Linked DNA regions of Homo sapiens. The protein of the gene in region 1 interacts with the protein of each later gene in a biochemical or structural test. Each region holds a gene or a part of one and is shown on either strand. Other genes may lie near its edges.

Region 1 (4,206 bases):
GGTGAGCGGGGCTGAGCAGGAGCTGGGTCAGACTGTTGGGTGTGACCGTGTGAGACTGTGCAGACAGTGACAGGGCGCCTGTCGCCCACACTCCACACTGTTTGCCATTCTCCAGCAGCATGGGGACCATTACTCAGCTCTGAGGGGAGCAGGAGCACTCTCCTCCGCTCCCCGGGGCTCCCCAGGAGGCAGACAACCCAGTTGCCAGAGTCAAGGACACACATAAAAGAGTAAAGGTGTTGAAAAATACAGTCGTCACCTTTGATATTGCTGTTCCATGCGGGGCGCGGCGAGGGTCTTATTCATTCAGCGGCTGTCGCTGGGCTTGTTTCTCCATTTGTCTGCTCTGTCTTTGGGGGTGGGGGACGAGTGTGTCATTTGAAGCAGTGACTCCTCCCTCCTCCCCCCAACACCTTCCCAAACACTGAGAATGGGGGGACTTTGAAGAAATACTGCCAGCAGGGGATGTGATTTTGGACCTCACAATCAAAGGGAAGGGACGAAAGGCCTGGGGAGGCTTGAGAGGGAGAGGAATGTCACCCCTGCCCAGAGGTGCTGAAAGCCAGGGCTCTTACACCCGAAAAGGCAACTCCTCCCTTCCCCCAGGATAATTGGAAACAGCCCTTCCTGCGCAGCGCCGGTTTGGGGTTGTAGGTACGCCCCTTCTTCTCCCAGCCCCGCTTCTCCCCCCAGCCATCTAGGAAAGACCCAAGTGTATCCCCTAAACTCTTGTTTTTCACTAACCCCCAGGTAACAACAGCACTTGGTCCATGGAGCAGTGACAAAAGAGACCCCAAGAGTGGGAGGTGCGCAGCCTGGGTTTGGTTTCTAGCTTTATCCCAGACTTCCTGTGTGACCTTGGGCAAGTCACGGGGCCTCCCTGAGCCTCAGTTTCCTCATCTCTGCAATGGGATCGTTAGCTCTGCCCCTCCCACTTCACACAGGTAGTCGTGACGATCAGCTCCGCCGCACTTTGTAAAGCGCCAAGCCTTCAAGGTTATTATTATTCTCTCCAAACCTGCCGGGAGCAGCGGTGTTGTTTTGGGATGGAGGAGGAGGCTGCGGGAGCGAAAGGGGTGGGTTCCTCGGGGTGGAGAGGGCGAGAGCCTTTCTGGATTCGAGAGAGGAAGATTCCAGCAGCTTGGGCGATCGGAGGGCAGGAGGGGAGCCGGGCAGAACTCAGCCGGAGCCAGAGGCTCGGAGAGACAAAGGGGGCGTGACAGCCCGCGCCGGGGGCTGAGGCGGGGCGGCGGGCGGGAGGTGCGCGAGGTGAGGGAGGTGTGGGGGGCGTGGGCCGCGGGATGCTGCCGCCCGCTCCGCCTCGAGCTCCAGCTCCGGTTTTTCCCTCCACCATCCTCTGCCCCTCCCCGCCTCTCCTTTAACTCCCCCCTCCTGGGCTCGGGACTGGTTTCCTCCCTTAGCCCGCTGCCCTCAATCCCAGCGAGGCTGGGGCTCCGGCTCGGCGCCCCCTTCCTCGCTCCCTGGTCCGGCGCCCCATGCCGCCCCCGCCCGGTCCCCGGCTCCCCCAGTCCCCCACTTAGGCGGGCTCACAGATCCCGGGGTGCTGGCGCGTGGGCCGGGGGCGCGTAGGGCGCCTGCAGACGGCCCCTGGAAGGGCTCTGGTGGGGCTGAGCGCTCTGCCGCGGGGGCGCGGGCACAGCAGGAAGCAGGTCCGCGTGGGCGCTGGGGGCATCAGCTACCGGGGTGGTCCGGGCTGAAGAGCCAGGCAGCCAAGGCAGCCACCCCGGGGGGTGGGCGACTTTGGGGGAGTTGGTGCCCCGCCCCCCAGGCCTTGGCGGGGTCATGGGGCCCCCCCATTCTGGGCCGGGGGGCGTGCGAGTCGGGGCCCTGCTGCTGCTGGGGGTTTTGGGGCTGGTGTCTGGGCTCAGCCTGGAGCCTGTCTACTGGAACTCGGCGAATAAGAGGTGAGTGGCCTGCGGCTGGGGAGATCCCAGACCCTAGGGCAGTGGGTAGGGAAGCTCTGGGGGCTTGGAGGCGGGCTTCTGTGGGCAGGGAGGAGGCGGGAGGGAAGGTGCTGGTGCTCTGATGTGTGATGGGTTACTAGACAGGTGATCTTGGGAGCCAGACTCCGGGTCCCACGCAGAGCTGGATGCGGGTGGTGCTATGGATGTCAGGAGTTTGGAGACCCCAAAGGGGCAAGGAGAAGAAAGTTCATGGGTAGCCGGGAGGGCAGTGAGGTGGGTATTTGGATCTGTGGGAGGCCTGCGTCGGGGGCTGGGCTTGGAGGGAGCCTGGTTACTGTCAGCTCTCAGGAGAGAGCTGCAGATTAGGTGCTGCGAGTCGCTGAGGGGAAGGCAGGGCAGGGTGCCTCCCTCCCCCAGAGGGACTGCGCATCCGAGATGGGAGGCAAGGGGGTTCCGTTTGGGGGCTCTGGGGACAACTTCCCCAAGGCTCCTTGACTCTCTTCACAGTCTGTCTCCCAACTCTTCCCCACAGCCAGAGGGTCAGTGAACTGTTGGCTGAACGATTTCCCAGCCAGAACATATTCCTGCCTTCCTGGCTTGCCGGCATCTTGCTGGAAGAAGCCTGGAGCCCCCTGAACCCTCCTTCCTTCCCTTTTGCATCTGGAGGACTCCATTGCCCCCTCCCCCAATCTTTGCTGCAAACTCTTCCATCAGACCCTCTGTTCCATGGCATGCCAGCTTTGCTCTGAAAAGAGGCCAGGGGTCAGATGAAACTTCAAGCCACGCTGGGTAGGACAGAACCTTCGGGAGGTCACCTGGGTCCCTTGCCTACATGCGGATCCCACTTCCCGCTCATAAAAGAGTTCTGTGTTTTGAAAAATTCCTACTTCCCTGGGGAGACTGTGTGAGGCCATGGGAAGGGGGTGGGCTTTGGAGCTCATCAAATCTTTGGTCTTAATCCTAGCTCTGCCGCTTTCAGCTGTGTGGCCTTGGGCATGTCACTTAACCTTTCTGAGTTTGTATCCTCAATCCTTACAGCTATTATGAGGATTAGCGGTAAGGTGTTTGAATGTATTATGTGCTCATTAAAGGAGAGCTAGGATTATTGTTCCTCTCTTTACTTCCCAGCCTCCCTCACACTTCTCTGCTCTGCCATCCCTCCCTCTCTTTTCCCTGGATCTCTTTGGGTATAATCTCAATGTCTTTTCTGTACTCAGTCACCCACCTGCCAACTCCCAGCTGCAATGTGAGTATCAGGTGTGTAGCTTGAGAACATAAGCTTGTTTTCACAGGGTAGAGAAAAGGGAGTTAGGGTGTCCTGGGGGCTCTTTCGGATGTGGGGTGGGAGTGGGACACTTGGGAGTCTGGGAAGATATCAAGTAGCAGTCCCCTGGGACCCAGTCCTGAGACCCTGTCTCAGCAGCTATTGATGTCCAGGAAGGGGCTGCAGGGGTTGGCAAGTTGTGGCTGTGCTGGGACAGTGGATGCCTGGGTGCACTGGCCAAGGAGATGGTGAAGTGTGTTGGTTGTGGTTAGAAAAGTCAACTCCTTTCCTTTCCAAAGCAATAGAGCACTTGCCCCAGAAGTCTAAGACCCAGTGTGGGATTCTGAGTGGGAGAATGACTCAGGCAGCAGGTTCCTAGACCCTGGTTCCCATCAGCCCCAATGATGGTCGTGGCCAAACCAGGCATTTGCCTTCTGTGCTATTAGCTGGCTAACTTAGGACACTGGTCTGGACCACCCTCCACACAGCCCCTCCCTGAACCGCCGCCCCCTTTGCCCGGAAATCCCTGAAATTCAGTGGTGGCCTGAAGGAGGGGAGGCTCTGCCCGCATGGTTGGCTGCCATGGAATAGTGAAATCACCTGGGAGGGGTGGGCTGTGTGGTTCCAGAGAGGCCAGCTCCTTGGTAACTGGCATCCTGTTGCCATGGCAACGGGGCTGGTGATGGAGCGGGAGATGGCGGTGTGCATGTGGTGAGGGCGGGCTGAAGAGTGGAGTGCATTTGGGCACACCAAGGGGCAGGAGACCCCTGAGCCTGGCTTCCTGCTGCTTCCAATGTGAATGCACAGAGTCCTTGGTGCCTGCTCTATAAGAAGAGACTTTCCACTCAGACAAAGGCGGGCAAGCGTGAGCTGAGAATTGCTGTCCTGGAAGGTTGTGGGGTGAGGGAAGGAAAGTTCTGGGGGCCAGGCCTCTGACATCTCTTCCTTGTCCACCTTACCCTCCTCCCCATAGGTTCCAGGCAGAGGGTGGTTATGTGCTGTACCCTCAGATCGGGG
Region 2 (3,500 bases), on another chromosome or scaffold:
TAGATTCAACAGCTAGGAAATTTTTGTTAATTGTCCTAAAGAGGGGCTGGCAAAGAGAGGTCTCTCTCTATCCCTCCTCATCTGGCCAGGCCCGCCTACAGTCATTGCAGCTGAGGCCATTTAGCTGAGCTTGTCCTCTCTCCAGCAGCCACGTGGGACTCAAGCCTGGGAGCAACTAGCACTCTCTCCAGACTCTAAGCAAAGAGAAATGCCAGCCCTGGGGGCCAAATACATGGGGGTTGTCCAATGTCAAGGGTGTCCTCACACATGGAAAAGGCAGGCTCTCTCTGACCCCAATCCCTCGTGGTCCCTATTCCTCCCTATTCCTTTTCTGTTGCTGTGTCATTTACCTCTTCTCTTTCTTTTTTCTTCTTTTTTTTTTTTAGAGTCTCACTCTGTCACCCAGGCTGGAGTGCAGTGGTGCAGTATCGGCTCACTGCGACCTCTGCCTCTCAGGTTCAAGCGATTCTCCTGCCTCAGCCTCCTGAGTAGCTGAGACTACAGGTGTGCACCAGCCCACCCAGTTAATTTTTGTATTTTTAGTAGAGACAGGTTTTCACCATGTTGGCCAGGCTGATCTCGAACTCCTGACCTCAAGTAATCTGCCCACCTCGGCCTCCAAAAGTGCTGGGATTACAGGTGTGAGCCACCACGCCCAGCTCTCTTCTCTTTTTTTAAGGTGTATGTATATGGAGGGACATATGTGTGACTATGGGTATGTGTCTGACATGTGTTTGTCTACAAGATGGACATACATGTGTTTATAACAGGGAACAGCATGCATGTTGTACGGTTTTCCTGTGAACTAATACTTAGTTACAATAGCTACCACTTACTGAGGCCTTACTGTGTGCTAGGCAGTGCTTACATGCTTTGCATGAATGATCTCATTCAATCCTTGTGACAACCCCATGTGATAGAACTACTTTTATAAAACCCATTTAAGATGATGGAATGAGGTTCAGAGAGAGTAAGTGCCTTGCCAAAGGTTACACTGACAATGATTGAAGAAACCAGGACTTCGGTGCATCTGATTCAGAGCCCATGTTCTTAGGCAGGATAAAGACCTCAGCCATGAGCAGTGATGGCCCTTGGCTCCCCTGGTCCCAGGTCACTAGGTAGTGAGTTGGTCGTTTTCCTTTTCTTTCAATCATGTGCATGCTGGATGTTCTGTTCTTCACCTGTCTTCTACATCTCTCACAGTTTTTCTCTGATCCTCTATCCTGGCCTGCATCCATAGCTGTCATGACCCCAATCCCTGGGATCTATCTGTAAGGCATTTCCAAAGAGATGCAATGACGAGAGCCAGAACTCTAGCTAGAGCTGAGCAGCTGCTCCCTGCTGTAACATCATTGCTCCTCTGACCCTATCTAAAGAACCTTTGGTACATCCACTGCCCTGACATACCTCAGTGACTCTGACACCTATTTGGGAAGACACAATGTTACCTACTGGCCCTTGTTGGACAAGAGAAGGGGGTGGAAAGAGGGAGAAGGAATCGGTCATTACCTGCAGTCTGTGGGGGTGGTGGGTGTGGTCCATCCTCGGATGCAGCCAGGGCTTCTAGAGCCTGCAGAGTGGACACCAGGGCATCATCTAGCTCCTGGGCATGATCTCGAACTGTCCGGGTCTGCACACTGTCAATCAATGTCACTGGAATCTCATCGTACAGAAGCCCACGCAGGTGGCGTCCTTGTTCCTGGCTCTGGACAGCCCGGCGCTTGGGGTCATCCTCATCAGAGCTGTTGTCTCGGAAACCAGGGGGTGGGGCAGCAATGGCTGGCAACAGAGAAGTTGTCTCATCTTCCTCCTCCTCCTCCTCCTCACTCCCAGGTGGTGGGAGGGACATCAAATCTACTATATTGTCACGAGAGGAGCCAGGCTTCCCACCTTTGCGAGGGCCCAGCTGCTCCTGAAGTTTGGCTTTGCAAGAGTCACAGTAGAAATTCAGGGCTTCAGCCCCAAGGGAATTGTCCAAGGTGTAGGACCGGGCCCTGCTGGCACAAGGCTCGTGGTCTAGGCTAGCTGCATCAAAGTCATCAGGGACTACCTCATAACCTTGGCCAGAGCTTTTGGATGTGGGGTCAGACTTGGTTCGGGGCCTGGTCTCCTCAAAGAAGATTAGGTTCTCGTTGACATCTGTCCGGCTTTCCTGCTCCTTCCTTTGTTCCCGCATATGGAGGTAGCAGAAGCTGACAAGCTCAGAGTCGGCAGGTGGGGGCGTGCAGCGGCTCGATTTCCTGGGGCTGGTGCCCACGCTGCCCACATAACTACTCTCCTTTTTCCCCAGGTGGCCCCCAGTGACAGGGCGGTGGGCGCTGTGCATGTAATCTAAACCCAGAAAGAGAATCAACAGATGAGCCCTGGTGCCAAGGATTGTGAATGAGCTCCCTTGTTGTCTCTGGCCCATGTCTCTGTAGCACAATCAAGTGGCAGGTCCCAAGACAAAGCATTACCTGGCTGCCAAAGATTAGAGGTAGGGAAGTTGATGAGCTATGTTACTGCTGACCCTGAAAGTAGAGTGAATAGAGTCTAATAACCTGAGCTGCTAATAGCCCCATCACCTCTGAAATGGGAAAAGGCATGGGGTATGGTAGGGGTCGGGGTGAACACCCTGGTTTAGGGCCTGGTATCTGGGCACAGCTGGACTCTTACATGGATACCCTCTATCTGAAAGTCAGCTGTAAACGTATGTCCCACTTGGAACTGTTCCTACCCCTGTCCCCACCCCTTTTCAGAGCTTTTCCACCAGTGCTCTGTTGTTCTTGTTATCTTGAATCTCTTCTAGCAGAAGGAAATAAATCTGACAAGTTACTAATGCTTTAGTCAGAACCTGTTAAACAGGCTACATATAATGCCGAAGAGTTTGCATTTCAAAGAGGCCTGTTGATGGAGGGATCCTAAAAGAATAAGGCTCTATATTAGAATTCCGGGGTCTGAATGTGTAAAGTATATGGGAGATATGCTGGGATGTGCATATGTGGGAGGAGGGCAGGGGAAGCATTCTTATAATTCTTCAAATTTTATTCTTTTCTGCATTCATGCAGGGCCAGCCCTACCTGCTACACATACATATGGCAAATGCTCTCGTCAACCGCTCTTAATGATGGTAGGTGTGTGCATCTGAGAATTATCTATAGCAAATGCTTTATCTGTGAATACCTTCTCTCACTGTTTTTGGAGCTCTTCCCCATTTTATCTGTGAGAATATACTCGGACAGCAGACAGACAGATAACAAACAAGCACTAACTTAGGCTAAGGTCCTAATATACATGATCCTACTTATTCTTCATAACAACCCAATGAGGTAGTTATTATCATTATTCACATTTTAAGGATAAAGAAACTGACTCACCTAAGGTTACATAGACCAAGTGGTAGACTGGATTTCCGCCTAGGTCTGAAAGACTTCAAAACCCATGTTTTTAGCCATTACCCTTATAACTCATCATGGTGGTCAAGATGCTGGAAAACAAGCCTTCAAAATGCCACTCAAACT

What was found.
Region 2: the proteins of EFNB3 (region 1) and FRMPD3 interact in a test that uses a peptide from one of them, tested with the Homo sapiens proteins (one large-scale study listed by IntAct).

Annotation. Positions count from the first base shown.
Region 1 is NC_000017.11:7,703,796-7,708,001, forward strand, and holds the start of EFNB3 (ephrin-B3 precursor), read left to right. Parts: upstream 1-1,406; 5' UTR 1,407-1,803; coding exon 1,804-1,925; intron 1,926-4,162; coding exon 4,163-4,206. UniProt on the Homo sapiens protein: Cell surface transmembrane ligand for Eph receptors, a family of receptor tyrosine kinases which are crucial for migration, repulsion and adhesion during neuronal, vascular and epithelial development.
Region 2 is NC_000023.11:107,596,152-107,599,651, reverse strand, and holds part of FRMPD3 (FERM and PDZ domain-containing protein 3), read right to left. Parts: intron 2,332-3,500; coding exon 1,510-2,331; intron 1-1,509.